Linked DNA regions of Homo sapiens. The protein of the gene in region 2 binds, or shares a complex with, the protein of the main gene of each other region. Each region holds a gene or a part of one and is shown on either strand. Other genes may lie near its edges.

Region 1 (7,621 bases), on a different chromosome or scaffold from region 2:
CAGAGACCGAGTCTGAGGAGAGAAGCTCTGACCCCAGTGGTCACCTTGAACTTGGCTTCCACTTTGTGGGCAACTTGATGGATGGGCTCAAGTTTATGGAAGATGGTAAATGACAAGCCTGGTGCAGATGCTCAGCACTCCCTGGCTTCATCTTGTCTGGCTGTGTCTGGCCTGTTAAGCCCACCCAGACCCCATGCCCTCTCCTTTCCGGGTTCCCATGGTCCCTGTGCCTCTGTCTTCCCTGCCAGGCTTTGGCTGCTCGAGTGCAGATTCCATGTCTGCCTTGTTCCCTGCTGTGTCCCCAGCACTTAGCCCAGCGTCTGCACAGAGTAGGTGCTCAGATAAATATGTGCTAACGGAATGAATGTCAGACGAACTTGAGAACTTTCCTCCTCCTCCCTGGACCTCCTCCCCAGACCTCCTCCCCGACCTCCCTCTGGCCTCTCCCACCCTTCAGCCACCTCCCCAGCCCCTGGCCAGGCACCAGCTGGACTCAAGAAGGAGGAAGGACGTGACTGGAGGCAAACACTTTATTATCCTGAAGTTCAGTTACAATGTGACAGTGGAGGGGACACTGGTGAGTGGGGGGTGAAGAGGTGGAGGGTGACAGTGGAGCTTCCTTTCACACACAGGCCTGACATGATTCCTCCTGTCTGCTCCCTCCCACATCCCCAGTCCCCGTCCAGCAAGGCAAATGTCCAGGCACCTGCCTGGCCCTAAAAAGAGTCACAGTCCTGACCCTCGTGGGGGCAGGGCAGGTGTCCCGAGGCCACCCAGAAAAACAGGAGACGCGTCGGTGATGTTCGGGAGTCAAACCATGTCCCAAAAGTCTTAAGAAGAAAAACGAGATTCCCCAGCAAATTCGTGGGACCCCAGGGCCATGCCTCCCAGCTCTGGCCACCTCTGCTTGTCCAGGGGCCTCACAGCCAAGGGGATGCAGGGGCCGCTGTGCAGTCGGCTGAGGCCAGAGTGAGGGGTGCAAGGACCCAGATGGGGAACACTGCTGTTTAAATATTAAACAGGGATTTCTTGTCTCCCACGTGGGAGACCTGATACTCTCAAGGGTCCCAGGTGGGGACCCTCAGGACCAGGGGCTCACAGCGGCTCATCCCAGTGCCCATTGCAGAGCCAGGGCTGGGGAGCAGTCATAGTAATAAATACTTGGTATTTACCTATCTACCTCCCAGTCCAGGGGATGGGAGGACAGGAGCTTTTTCTCACTGCTACAGGCAGGAGAATGAAACTCAGAAATGCAGGGAAGGACACAGAGGCCTGGGGCTCCGTTCTGCTCTTCCCTGTCTTTAAATATGAGGCTTAAATAGACATAAATATTAAATAGAGATAAATACATGGGATGGGGAGGGCTTGGCTCAGGGCTGGGCAAGGTGGCGTAGAACGCGGTACGACACCTCCAGGAAGCTCTGCAGATGGGAGGCAACCAGGACCCCTCCTGCCCGGCGCTGGAAAGCAGAGGCGAAGGCCGGCATGGCACCCTGGGTGGGCTGCAGGGCAGGGGCCATTCCCAGTTCTTCCATCTGTGGGGGAAAGCTGTGATCAGTGGTTGGGCCCTTCTGAGTGGGCGTTATTACAAATGAGGAAATGCTGGGGGTGACAGCATGGACAGGGCCCATACACAGGCCTGGCTGTGGTGCCCAGAATGCCAGCACGACCTTGGCCACCCTGCCCAACAAGGCTCACCTGCTGCCAGATGGTGGTGGCAAAGTCGGCGACGTCCAGCTGCAGTGTGTCCAAGGTGGGACCCAACTCGGGGGAGATCCCTTCCAGGGCCTGCAGGAGCCCCTGGTAGAGGAAAAGGCCGCTATGGAGTTGGCTCAAGCAGCCTGCCTGTGAGACAGAGCGGAAGAGTTAGGGGGTGCTGCCTGAGATACGTCAGGCCCCCAGCTTGGAACCTGGAGACATGGGGGAGCCCATGGGTGTTCCTCCTCTCCTTCCCCCTCCTCATTAGCCTTATCCTTTCCTGACACTCACCAGCTGCAGGGCCTGGCTGGGGCAGCTGCTCAGGGGAGCCCAGGGGATGCCCAGAGAGTGTCCGAGCAGCACCAGCTCCTCGGGGTGGCACAGCTTGTAGGTGGCACACTGGGGATGGAAGGATGCTGAGTGAGACTCGCCATGGCCGGGTCGCCGCTCCTTCCCGGGTCCTCCCCGACTCTCTGGTCTTTCCCCTCCCTCCATGTCCTGCCAGGCTGTTCAGTTCCTCTCTGCCCTGCACCCCCACTCTCTGATCTCACAGGGGCCCTTGCCCTTTCTCCTGAATGTAATGCCTCCACTCCCATCCCAGCCAGCCCTCCCGAGCACTGTCCCCACCAAGGTCCTCCTCCCCAAGTCCCTTCCCAGCCTTCCCCAGCTCCACTGCTCCTAATATTCTCCCACGTCCCTTCCAGAGGATGTTGGCCCTGCAGTTCCATCCCCCTTAGCTCTCCCCACCGGGCTTCCCTCCACAGCCCTCTCACCCACCTCACTCACCAGCTTCTCCTGGAGCGCTGCGCCATCGCCCTGGATCTTCCTCACTTGCTCTAAGCACTTGAGCAGGAAGCTCTGGGGCAGGGAGCTGGCAGGGCCCAGGGGGGTGGCTTCCTGCACTGTCCAGAGTGCACTGTGCCACAGCAGCAGCTGCAGGGCTGGGGACAGAGCGGGCTCAGGAGACATGCTGTTCCCTACCACCTGAGGCCCTCTCGGGGACACTGGGTGCCTTTAATCCCCATTCCCAGAACGGGGATCCCCAGCCCCTCTGTCACACCAGCCTCCCTCCCATGCCAGGGCAGGCGGCTCTCCCATCCTGGGCCAAGACACTCACCCATCAGCTTCATGGGGCTCTGGGTGGCAGGTCCAGCCATGGGTCTGGGTGGGGCTGGGCTGCAGGCTCCGGGCTGTTTTGGGGCCCAGCTCTAGGGGGGCCTTTATACATAACCCCATGGAGGCCTGGGAGGAAATTACCTGGGGCCACGACTAAGGCTTAGTAATAACTTCCCAGGATTTATGCAAATTTGGTGTCCAAGACAATGCAGGGGGGTTGGAACAAAAAGCTGTTTGCGAAAGTTTTGTGAAATTGTGGAATCTCTGATCCTCCTTTGACGTCGCCTTGCCCCCCTCAAACTCCCTTCCTCCCGCTGCCCCACCCAGGCCTGAATGGCCCCAGAGTGTTTGAACAGAACAGCTGAACAAAGGCTGAGCCGCTGATAGACGCCTGGAAGCGGCAGCAGCCTGTGGGGAAGTGGCAGCTGAGTCGGGGTCTCCCTCTCTGCTCTGGCAGACTTGCGGGGGCAGTGTCCTTTGCCCCTCTCCTTTGGGATTCTCAAGCCTGTCCCCCAAGCCCCCAAATTCTAAGAGAGAAAAAAAGAAGCTGGTTGCTCCCATTCCTACCCCCAAACTCTCCGGAGGCTGCCTGTCTGGGAGACCTCCTGAGCCCCTACCTGAGATAAGGACATTGGGTCTTGGCTGCTGTGCCCACCCCACACTTGGATAGGCACCATCGAAAGTTCCAGGCTGTCCTGTCCCAAGTTGATTAGCTGGGAACTCCCCCAGAAACCCCCCCGCCCCCCATGACTCATTCGGCTAAAGCCCCTAGAATCCCGGTAGAGCCAGAGGAAACCGGATGTCTGTCCCGAATGAGGCAAGACCCTTCGAGGCGATTGGCTCACCTGACCTTCACCTCCTCGTGCACGACCCTGACAGTAGGGTCCCCAAGGGCTTTGGAACTGCGGGATTGGGACACGTGACTTCCCTGGTCATTCACCTTGAAGTGGACACGGGCTGGGGTGAGAGAGGGGAAACTGCCCCATCTTCTCATCTTAGAACCATGCAGCGTTAATGCTGGAAGGGACCTTGGAGTCGATTCCAACCCCGTGAACTGGGCCAGGGAAGGAAGTGCCTTGCCCAAGGTCATGGTAAGTGACAGAATTACAGCCTGGGCCTCTGGCTCAGACCTGAACGTTTTCTTTTTCTTTTCCAGATGGAGTCTTGCTCTGTCGCCCAGGCTGGAGTGCAGTGGCGCGATCTCGGCTCACTGCAAACTCTGCCTCTCGGGTTCACGCCATTCTCCTGCCTCAGCCTCCCGAGTAGCTGGAACTACAGGTGCCCGCCACCATGCCCGGCCAATTTTTTGTATTTTTAGTAGAGACGGGGTTTCACCGTGTTAGCCAGGATGGTCACGATCTCCTGACCTCGTGATCCACCCGCCTCGGCCTCCCAAAGTGCTGGGATTACAGGCGTGAGCCACCGTGCCCGGCCTAGGCCTGAACGTTTTCTACAGGCCACAAGGCCTGCCTGGGGCAGTCTGACTGACCACACCCAAGACTGTCACCTTCTGTCCTAATTTACCCCAGCGTGCCAAGAAACAGACATCTCTGGATGAGAAGTGGATGTGGTGACTGGATGGGGCCATCTCTGGTGCTTGGGGGCCCCCTGGTGGTCACCAATGGCAGGGACGTCTGATCTCACACACTGATCTCACACACTGTTATCTGGTCCGCGGTCCTGCAGCTCCGCCTTAGCTCTGTGGCTCAGCACCTTGCACTGATGTGGCCCAGCTCTGTACCCAGCTCCCTGGGAGTAGAGGGTGGGTTTTTGTTGTTGTTTTTTTGAGATGGAGTTTCGCTCATTGCTCAGGCTGGAGTGCAATGGCACGATCTCGGCTCACTACAACCTCCGCCTCCCTGGTTCTAGTGATTTTCCTGCCTCAGCCTCCCAAGTAGGTGGGATTACAGGCATGCACCACCATGCTCATCTAATTTTGTATTTTTAGTAGAGGTGGGATTTCACCATGTTGGTGGTCAGGCTGGTCTCGAACTCCTGACCTCAGGTGATCCACCCGCCTCGGCCTCCCAAAGTGCTGGGATTATAGGCATGAGCCACTGCACCTGGCCTTGAGGGTGGGTTTTTAACAGGACCATGGAAGGCAGGAGCTCCACATTCTTAAACATGTTGCCTGGCAACTATTGCATTGCACACCTCTTATATGTCAGGCACTTTTTTTTTTTTTTTTTAAGACAGAGTTTGGCTCTTGTTGCCCAGGCTGGAGTGGGTGGAGTGCAATGGCACGATCTCGGCTCACTGCAACCGCCGCCTCCTGGGTTCAAGTGATTCTCCTGCCTCAGCCTCCTGAGTAGCTGGGATTACAGGCATGCTCCACCACTGCCCCCACAGCCGGCTAATTTTGTATTTTTAGAAGAGATGGGCTTTCTCCATGTTGGCCAGGCTGGTCTCACACTCCTGACCTTAGGTGACCCGCCCGCCTCGGCTTCCCAAAGTGCTGGGATTACAGGCATGAGCCACTGCGCCTAGCCATATCAGGCACCTCTTATTACACTTTTGTCAATTTTTTTGCGGAGGGGAAACAGGGTCTCAGTCTGTCCCCCAGCCTAGAGGGCTGTGGTACAATCACAGCTCACTGCAGTCTTCACCTCCCAGGCTCAAGCGATCCTCCCACTTTAGCCTCCCGCGTAGCTGGGACCACAGGCACGGACCACCATGCTCCGCCAATTTTTGTAATTTTTTTTTTTTTGCAGAGAGGGCATTTCATCATGTTGCCCAGGCTGATCTCAAACTCCTGGGCTTGTGTCCGAAACTGGTGAGTGCTTGGTCTCACTGACTTCAAGAAGGAAGCCGCGGACCCTCGCAGTGAGTGTTACAGCTCTTAAGGTGGTGCATCTGGAGTTTGTTCCTTCTGATGTTCAGATGTGTTCGCAGTTTCTTCCTTCTGGTGGGTTCGTGGTCTCGCTGGCTGAGGAGTGAAGCTGCAGACCTTCGCGGTGAGTGTTATAGCTCTTAAGGCAGCGCGGCCGGAGTTGTTCATTCCTCCCGGTGGGCTCGTGGTCTTAGTGGCTTCAGGAGTGAAGCTGCAGACCTTCGTGGTGAGTGTTACAGCTCATAAAAGCAGTGTGGACCCAAAAAGCGAGCAGTAGCAAGATTTATCGCAAACAGCAAAAGAACAAAGCTGCCATATTGTGGATGGGGACCTGTGCCCGTTGCCACTGCTGGCTCGGGCAGCCTGCTTTTATTCTCTTATCTGGCCCCACCCACATCCTGCTGATTGGTAGAGCCGAGTGGTCTGTTTTGACAGGGCGCTGATTGGTGCGTTTACAATCCCTGAGCTAGACACAAAGGTTCTCCACGTCCCCACTAGATTAACTAGATACAGAGTGTCGACACAAACATTCTCCAAGGCCCCACCAGAGTAGCTGTCAAGCCTCTGAGCCCAAGCCAAGCCATCGCATCCCCTGTAACTTGCACATATACGCCCAGATGGCCTGAAGTAACTGAAGAATCACAAAAGAAGTGAATATGCCCTGCCCCAACTTAACTGATGACATTCCACCACAAAAGAGGTGTAAATGGCGGGTCCTTGCCTTAATTGATGACATTACCTTGTGAAAGTCCTTTTCCTGGCTCATCCTGGCTCAAAAAGCACCCCCACTGAGCACCTTGCGACCCCCCACTCCTGCCCGCCAGAGAACAAACCCCCTTTGACTGTAATTTTCCTTTACCTACCCAAATCCTATAAAACGGCCCCACCCTTATCTCCCTTCGCTGACTCTCTTTTCGGACTCAGCCCACCTGCACCCAGGTGATAAAAGCTTTATTGCTCACACAAAGCCTGTTTGGTGGTCTCTTCACACGGATGCCCATGAAAGTAGCCAGATACAGACTGTCGATTGGTGCATTCACATACCCTGAGCTAGACACAGGGTGCTGATTGGTGTGTTTACAAACCTTGAGCTAGATACAGAGTGCCGATTGGTGTATTTACAATCCCTGAGCTAGACATAAAGGTTCTCCAAGGCCCCATCAGAGTAGCTAGATACAGAGTGTGGATTGGTGCATTCACAGAACCTGAGCTAGACACAGGGTGCTGATTGGTGTATTTACGATCCCTGAGCTAGACATAAAGGTTCTCCAAGTCTCCACCAGACTCAGGAGCCCAGCTGGCTTCACCCAGTGGATTCCGCACCAGGGCTGCAGGGGTAGCTGCCTGCCAGTCCCGGTGCCGTGCGCCCGCACTTCTCAGCCCTTGCGTGGTCGATGGGACTGGGCGCTGTGGAGCAGGGGGTGGTGCTCGTCGGGGAGGCTCGGGCCGCACAGGAGCCCATGGAGGGGAGGCTCAGGCATGGCGGGCTGCAGGTCCCGAGCCCTGCCCCGCGGGAAGGCTGCTAAGGCCCAGTGAGAAATCGAGCGAGCACAGCGCCGGCGGGCTGGCACTGCTGGGGCACCCAGTACACCCTCCGCAGCCGCTGGCCCGGGTGCTAAGCCTCTCATTGCCCGGGGCCTGGCAGGGCTGGCCCGCTGCTCCGAGTGCGGGGCCCGCCAAGCCCACGCCCACCCGGAACTCCAGCTGGCCCGCAAGCGCCGCGCGCAGCCCCGGTTCCTGCTTGAGCCTCTCCCTCCACACCTCCCTGCAAGCTGAGGGAGCCGGCTCTGGCCTTGGCCAGCCCAGAAAGGGGCTCCCACAGTGCAGCGGTGGGCTGAAGGGCTCCTCAAGTGCCACCGAAGTGGGAGCCCAGGCAGAGGAGGCGCCGAGAGCGAACGAGGGCTGTGAGGACTGCCGGCATGCTGTCACCTCTCAGGCTCAAGCCATCCACCCGCCTTGGCCTCCCAAAGTGCTGGG
Region 2 (7,770 bases):
GATCCTAGCAGCAGATAAGGGACTGGGGAGAATGAAACAGGGAAGGAGAGAAAGCCAGCACAAAGTTACATCATCATGTTGGTCACCTCTATGGACAACTGGGGCTCTATCCTGCTGGAACCTTCCAAAGAGCCATGTAGAACACTTCTCAGAGCTGTCCACTGGAGGGTCAATTTATCCCTTGGATGGGAGGGAAGATGGAAAGATTTACCCACTGACTCCTGCCCCCCATTGGTCAAGGGATGCCTCTTGGGGTGTTCATTCCCTGGCACATCCAGGTTGGGCATGCATGAGTACTAGGCAGGTTCTCCTGGGGAAGCCATGCCAGTGTTGTCAGGGACACTCCCTGGAAGAAAGGGAGAACTCTATGGAGCAGCTGAGGCAAGGGGCTGTCAGGTTATGCCTGCAGGAAGCTGGCTGCCTCAGCCATGTGGGCTGAGAGAATATCAAGTGGGGCACCCGAAGGGTCCAGTGTGCCCCCAATTTTGGGCACAGACCTCTGGTGGCCTTCTGGGGTCAGGCATCATGAGGTCACGGCCATAGCACCTGGATGGAGGGTGCCTTGGCTCCAGTCTTAGGAAGTATGCAGAGGTTTCTACCACTTGGGTGGGTGTCCAGCCTCATCTTCACCCTGCTCCCATTGGGGTCTTGGAGCCAACACCTGATCCTCCAGCACGAGTTGGTGCTCTTGGTGGCAGATCAGTGGGAATCGCTGGTCAGCTTGCACGTACATATCTGGACACATACACGCAGGTGGTGTCCCAGCAGATCCCTCGTGCTCAGCAGGGAGAAAGGTAGGAGAATCCTTTTCTCTTCCTCCCAGACAGAGGTGTGGATAAGAACTGCCCAGATACCCAAGGTTGTTACTGCTCACAGGGGTCTTACCCAAACCCCCAGTCTATCCATGTATATATTGCAGTATCGGAATACCCAGTGACTGCTAGCCCGTAAGTCTCCTTTGTGCAAATCAGAAAGAAAGCACCCCTTCCTCTGGATGGATGCAGCACCACACTAGGACCTGGCAACTAGGGAACAGCCTGGATTTCGGCTCCAGTTACTCCTCAGTTTTGTGCAGTGAGAAACCTGTACAAGTATCCCGAGCATCTGTCTACCCATCGGTGGTTGGTAACCTTCTTACTATAGCATACCAGTTTGATTATCCCCCCGCAACACTGGTTGGGGAAGATTTAGCCTCCAAGGCCCAGATTTTGGGACACTGGTTTTCATCTCCATGTGCTTTTGATCCTATCCCAGCCCTGTTGCCCTAGCCAGGGTCAGCTTCAGGCCCAGCCTATGCCCCGTGCAGTACCACCCTATCCGCCTCCACTGGCTCCTGTCCAGAGTAGACAACCTAACCCCAAGAGGCCCCGGCATCCTTCCCCTGGGTGCTGGGTGTTGGCCTGCTTGGCCTCAGTCTCTGGTCCTCCACTGCAGCCCTGGACGTCCCCCAGCCTGGTTAAGTGGGCCTAGGACCTGTTGGAGCATGGTCTCACTCTCTGGGGGGCCGATATGCAGAGAGGTTTGGAGCCCAGCTCAGATTCAGGTCACCTGACTTGATCTCCAGCTCCGCCACTTACCAGCTTTGTGATCTTGGACAAGTTACTTCACCTTTCCGAGCCGAGCCTCAGTTTCCCCATCTGTGGGAAAGAAATAACATTAGCACTCACTCCTCAGCGTTGTTGTGAGGATGAAATGAGATTATTTTGGTAAAGGCATTTAGCCCTGTGCCTTGCATGGAGTTGGCACTCAGCAACCATAGGTTATTTTCACGAGCCATAAATAGCAGGTCAGCAGCTCACAGAATCCAGCACAGTTCAGTTTTCCCCTCACCCCTGCCTCCCTCACAGCCTGTGTGGTCACACCTCCCAGGACTGCCACCTTGCTTTTGTCTGTGCCACACTGCGCAGTTCCAAAGCCCCCTTTCTGGATCCTCTCCTCCTAACTCCTGGGCCCCCTGGCCCTCCTGTCACTGCGGCCATCTCTGCTGGGCTCTGCAGGTGCTCACTCCTGTGGCCCAGCACAGCTCGATGTCTCCTGGGCTGGCTGCCTTCACATTCCCTCTTTCTGTTTCTCCCTCATCACGCTCAGCCCTCTCCCCTCACACTCTCTTCCCCACTTCACACCCCTCGCTCCCTTGCTGTTTCTACTCTCACCTCGAGATTCTTTCTGTGGGAAGGGTGGGGAGGGAGGAGGGGGCTGGGAATAAACAGAGGGGAGAGGCATTTCCAGATATGCTGCAGATAAAGAAAAAGAGAGAGCAACAGGAAGAGTGACAGAGTGAGGCGGTGACTGAAATCCACACAGACTGAAACGACAGAGAGACTCGCCAAGAGGACGATTGAGGCCAGAGAGATATCGAGAGACAGAGAAAAAGGGCCCAATGTACGCCGACCCAGAGAGTGGGCGGGGGGGGGGCACTCGGAGGCCTGGAGCCCGGGAAGCGTCTGTTACCGAGAGTTTAAGATTCAAGAGATAGCAGGAAATATGCGAGACAGAGAAACTCAGAGAGATAGCAAGCCAGAGAGAAGCTGAGGAGGAAAGATGGAAACAGAGAGTGAAATAGAGACCCAGACGGGGAGGGGTTGCGCGGCTGGAACTCACAGACACACACGTCCTGAGAGACAGAGGCATGGGGAGGGGAGAATGATTATGCCTGTCCCCAGCCCAGCTCAGTGTCCCCAAGGAGATACTTGGCTGTGAGTGACTTCCCTGGTGCAATACCCCCAAAAGTAGGGGCATCCTGTGAAAAGAGACTCAGTGTCCAGGGCTGGGGTTCCAAAGGACGAATCCCGGGCCCCAGGCCTAGGACCCCGGACATGAACACTTGGCAGAGCTGTGGGGAGTGGCCCCAGGATTCCAGCTCTCCATCAAGCCCAAGGCTCAGCCCCTCTCTAGGGATCCCCTACTCACGTTGGCACCTCTGGCCCAGCCCCTGCTTGGCCTCCTTGGTCTCTCTTCTCGTCAAGAGAAGTTCCTGAAACCAGCTGCAGTCCAGCTTCTCTCCCCGAGCTCTGTCGTTAATGGCTCAGCCTCTGACAGGCCCGGGGGCTGGGGATTGCAACACCTTCCGAGCCTCCCTCCTGCCCTCCCTTGCGCCTTCGAGGGCACAGGCAGCCCCTTCCTCCCAGGAAGGAGCCTGTGAGGGAAGCTGGTGAGGCCCGGGCAGCCTTCCTGCCTTGGGGGTCTTAAAGGGCTGGGGAATGTGGCAACGATGTCCCCCTCCCCTGCCTCCGGATTTCCTGAGCTCAAAGCTTTGAGGCTGGGCAGGGCCCAGGCTCCCACCTGGCTGGGTGCCATCCTTATGCCCCCTGCCCTGGGGGAGCATCACTTGGAGGCAGGCCCTGGCTGGAAGGCTCACCCGGCCCTAAGCCTCTTTTCAGCTCTAGCCTTGGGGACCACATCTTCACAGTACTCAGAAGGGTGTGTTCCAGGTTCCAGGGAATTGTGTAACCCAATACTCACTGCTCCCCTCTTCATTACGTATTCTGTGCATTGCCCATAGACCAGGCAGATGGAGAAACAGGAATTCTGGGGGCAAGACAGGAGGACGTCTTGGTGAGGCACGGGGTCTTTATATGTTCACTAAAAATTAGGAATGTTTACCCACAATGGTTCTGCAACACTGAATATTTTGTAATTGAGTGAAATAGACTACATTTTATGTCTTTTATTGTCTGTATTCATGATTCTTCTAAAACTACAAATAATTTTCTTTGCATTTTCTGAGAAAGGTTCAAACTGCTCATAGTTTATTGGATTCATAACCCAAAAAAGGTTAGGTGCCAACAGACCAGCAGACTGTCCTTAACATATAATCCTTTTGAGGCATCTGGGTCTGGTGTGATGCTGCAGACCAGGGCTGTAGTTCTAGTTCCAAGTCAAATGACCTGACTGCCTGCTGCAACCCTCCCAAGATATCCCACAGGCTCTGCTCGCTCAGTGAGTCCCATGGACTCTCTTCTTTCCAAATATAACCAGAATCCTGGGTATTCACTGTAAAGTTCAACTTGGCTCTACGTTTGAATATTTTTATGATAATATTTGGAAAATATAAATATAACTGAAACCAATACTAGCCAGCTCCAAGCTACCCTCATCTATTGCCTAGATAATCGCAATAGCCCCCTGCCTGCTCTCCTGCTTCTATTTCATCCTTGTTCCCGCACCTGTCTGTAATTCCTTCAGCAGCCAGTGCGATATCAATCAAACAGAAGTCTGATCAGCCCATCCTCGTCCCAACCTTTCCAATGGCTCCTGTCTCATTCAGAGTCAAAGTCAAAGCCCTTTGGATGGTCTACAAGGCCCTACAAAACCTGGTATCCCTGTTACCTCCTGGATCCCTCTCCTGTTATTCTCCCCCTTGCTGCCTTGCTCCAGCTACTCTGTGTTCTTTGCTTCTTGAACTTGTTATGCTGTCTCTTGCCTCAGGGCCTTTGCACTTGCTGTTTCATTTGCCTGGACTCTTTCCCCCGCAAATAGCTACATGGGCTGGTCCCTCCCCTTCTTCAGGTCTTTGCTCAAATGTCACTTTCTCATTGAGGCCTTCTCTGAGCACCCTTTTCAAAATTTGCAAGCCCCTTCCCTCCCACTCCCTATCTCTCTCTCCCCCAAATCCCTTTTCACCATCTGATATTGGCTGTCTCAATCCCCACTAGACTGAAAGTTCCATAAGAGCAACAGTTTTTATCTGTTTTGTTCAAAACTTTATCTCCAGTGTCTATAACACTGCTTGCCACACAGTAAGGCCTCCATGCGTGTTTGTTGAATGAATGATCAACTGGATGAATCTTCCCCCACTTCACCAAATCTGTCTCTAATCCCCACGTACCTTGTCATGGTGAATTAACCACCATCCCCTCCTCTCCCTAGTCATGCAGCTCAGGGACTCAGGAGTCATTCCTTACAACCCTTTCTCCACATTCCCATGTCCAGTCAGTTCTTTTAGTTCTTTTTTTTCTTTCTTTCTTTTTTTTTTTTTGAGACAGAGTCTCACTTTGTCACCCAGGCTGGAATGCAGTGGCGCGATTTTGGATCACTGCAACCTCTGACTCCCAGGTTCAAGTGATTCTCCTGCCTCAGCCTCCCAAGTAGCTGGAATTACAAATGCCTGCCATCATGCCTGGCTAATTTTTGTATTTTCAGTAGAGATTGGGTTTCACCATGTTGGCCAGGCTGGTCTTGAACTGCTGACCTCAAGTGATCCGCCCACCTCAGCCTCCCAAAGTGCTGGTTTTATAGGCGTGAACCACCGCACCTGGCCTTCTGGTCATTTTAAATTTATTTTTTATTTTTATTTTCATTCTTTTTTTTTGAGATGGAGTCTCGCTCTGCCACCCAGGCTAGAGTGCAGTGGCGCGATCTCGGCTCACTGCAACCTCTGCCTCCCAGGTTCAAGTGATTCTCCTGCCTCAGCCTTCTGAGTAGCTGGGACTACAGGCACGCACCACCACGCCCGACTAATTTTTTTGTATTTTTAGTAGAGACAGGGTTTTGCCATGTTGGCCAGGCTGGTCTCGAACTCCTAGCCTCAAGTGATCTGCCTGCCTCGGCTTCCCGAAGTGTTGGGATTACAGGCATGAGTCACCGCGCCTGGCCCCAGTCAGTTCTTAATGAAGGAGAATGGGCCTTTTGTTCATCATTCAGAGAACTTGCTCCTGGAGCAGGTGCAGGGACACAATGGTGAGACACAGTTTTAGTTCCTGCCTTTATGGAGCTCCCGTCTCAGCCTTGCCAATGGCCCTGCAATCCTTCTCCTCTCCCTGTCTTTCTTCAGAGGCCCGTCGTCACATCCTAACTCCTGAACCGGACATGCAAGTTACCCTCGCCTCCCTCTCCTGCCTCACCAGCCCCTGCTTCCTCAGATCCAGCCCGTCATGCTCCGGTCATGCCAAATTCACTAGTATTTCCCTGCCTGCCCCAGGCTCTGGAACAACCCTGTGCCTTTCTTCTGCGGAGCGCCTGTCACCTCCTGCTGGCTGAGTCCTGTTCCTGACCCAGTTCAAGCATCCAGCCTGAGCTCAGCATCCCTCTGGGCTTCCACACCTTAGTCAAGCTGAATTAGGGGCCCTTCTCCCCATTCATCCTGTAATACTGTAGTAGGCTGTTGGCCGCCTGCCTCCTCCATTATACTGTGAACTCTTTGAGGGCAGAAACTGTATTCTCACCTCTGCCTCTCTAGCCTCAGTACAGTGCCGGACACACAGAGGATACTCAATGCATATCTGTTGGGCTGCAGAACCTTGGAGATGGTGTTTACCTCTTCCAAGCCTCTGTTTCCTAATCTGTCACAGTGATAATAACTCCTCCCAGGGATTTTGTGATAATTAAATTAGCTATCAGAAATACAATGCCTAGTATGGTAACCAGCGCATAGTAGGTGTTCAATAAAGTTGCTTTCCTTTGTTCCCTTCTGCATAATTCAATATTTAGGAGGGAGATTCTACTATTCTCCTTTGTGCTCCATTCTCTGTTGAGGACCTGCACCAGGAAATGGAGCTGCAGCAGCCAGAATAAAAGTTAGATTTAAGGAAATGAAAGTTAGATTTAAGGAAGAGCTTTCTTTAGAGTGTACTGAGGTTAAGATGATGAGCTGAGGAGTCAGGCTGCTTCAATTTGCCACTTGCTGCCTGTGTGACTCCAAACAAATGTTTAATCTCTTTAAGCCTCGGTTTTGTCATCTGTAAAATGGGGCTAACAGTATTGGCTTCATAGGATTCTTGAGAGAAATCAGTGACCGTAAGGCTTGTGGAACACAGCCAGGAACACAGTAAATGCTTAATAAGTGTTTACTATGGTGCACTGAAGAGCACAAGACAGACGAGGAGTCATCCCCTCTACCCGCACCCAGTGTCGGCTTTGTGGATACTTCCTCTTCCAGCTGTCCTGCCTCCCGCCCCTCCTCCATCAGACAAGGCCTCTGTGTGTTGGAAACCCTGGGTAAGGGAGTGCTGGTGAGGGAACCCTATTCTTGGCAGCCTAGCTACTGAGCCCCGAGTTGTTTCTGTTTCTGTTACTGCCTGTGATGTGTGGGGCTTCTGGGTAGGTCAAGGAGCAGCTTGTTTCAGAGGGGCCGGGGCGGGGTCCAGGTGGGCAAGCTGGGGTGAGTGCCCGGAAGTTGAGGCTGTGGTGCTCAGCTGCCAGGGCCGGGGTTGGCTGGAATACAGCAGGCAGCTAAGATTGTGCAAACAGGTCATTGTGCAAACGCGCCCCTGTGTGTGACCTCGATTGTGCAAACAGGTGTTTACTGGAGGCTGCTCCGCTTGGACAGCCCACTTACAAAAAGCCCTTGAGCTGTTGACTTAGAAAGAAACTGGACACTCCTTCTTCCCTGAACCCACCCTGAACTTTCCGCCTCCTGGCCTTTGCTCAGGCTGTTCTCTCTGCCTCGAGTGCCCTCCCTCACCTCCACCTCAACTTGCTGAAATTCTACTCATTCTTCAAGGCTCAGAGAAAATGCCACTAAGTCTTTTTTTCTTTTTCTTTTCTTTTTTTTTTTTTTGAGACAGAGTTTCATTCTTCTTGCCCAGGCTGGAGTGCAGTGGCGCGATGTTGGCTCACTGCAACCTCCTCCTCCCAGGTTCATGCGATTCTCCTGTCTTAGCCTCCCAAGTAGCTGGGATTACAGGCGCCTGCCACCATACCTGGCTAATTTTTGTATATTTAGTAGAGAAAGGGTTTCACCATGGTGGCCAGGCTGGTCTCGAACTCCTGTCCTTAGGCAATCCGCCTGCTCGGCCTCCCAAAGTGTTGGGATTATAGGCGTGAGCCACC

The links.
Region 1: the proteins of CSF3R (region 2) and CSF3 are in contact, whole or in part, in a crystal structure (PDB 2D9Q), measured with the Homo sapiens proteins. Residues at the interface, in NP_000751.1 of Homo sapiens: Arg164, Arg190, Lys191, Leu193, Leu194, Leu195, Tyr196, Gln197, Asp220, Met222, His261, Ile262, Asn263, Arg311, Pro313, Leu314; in NP_000750.1 of Homo sapiens: Ser42, Leu45, Lys46, Glu49, Gln50, Arg52, Lys53, Leu141, Asp142, Asp145, Thr148, Thr149, Gln152.

What each region holds. Positions count from the first base shown.
Region 1 is NC_000017.11:40,010,709-40,018,329, reverse strand, and holds CSF3 (granulocyte colony-stimulating factor isoform b precursor), read right to left. Parts: upstream 2,891-7,621; 5' UTR 2,856-2,890; coding exon 2,816-2,855; exon of another isoform or gene 2,640-2,815; coding exon 2,485-2,639; coding exon of another isoform or gene 2,476-2,484; intron 2,098-2,475; coding exon 1,990-2,097; intron 1,846-1,989; coding exon 1,699-1,845; intron 1,536-1,698; coding exon 1,371-1,535; 3' UTR 517-1,370; downstream 1-516. UniProt on the Homo sapiens protein: Granulocyte/macrophage colony-stimulating factors are cytokines that act in hematopoiesis by controlling the production, differentiation, and function of 2 related white cell populations of the blood, the granulocytes and the monocytes-macrophages.
Region 2 is NC_000001.11:36,479,901-36,487,670, forward strand, and holds the start of CSF3R (granulocyte colony-stimulating factor receptor isoform a precursor), read right to left. Parts: upstream 3,014-7,770; 5' UTR 2,911-3,013; intron 1,638-2,910; 5' UTR 1,578-1,637; intron 181-1,577; exon of another isoform or gene 87-180; intron 1-86. UniProt on the Homo sapiens protein: Receptor for granulocyte colony-stimulating factor (CSF3), essential for granulocytic maturation. Plays a crucial role in the proliferation, differentiation and survival of cells along the neutrophilic lineage.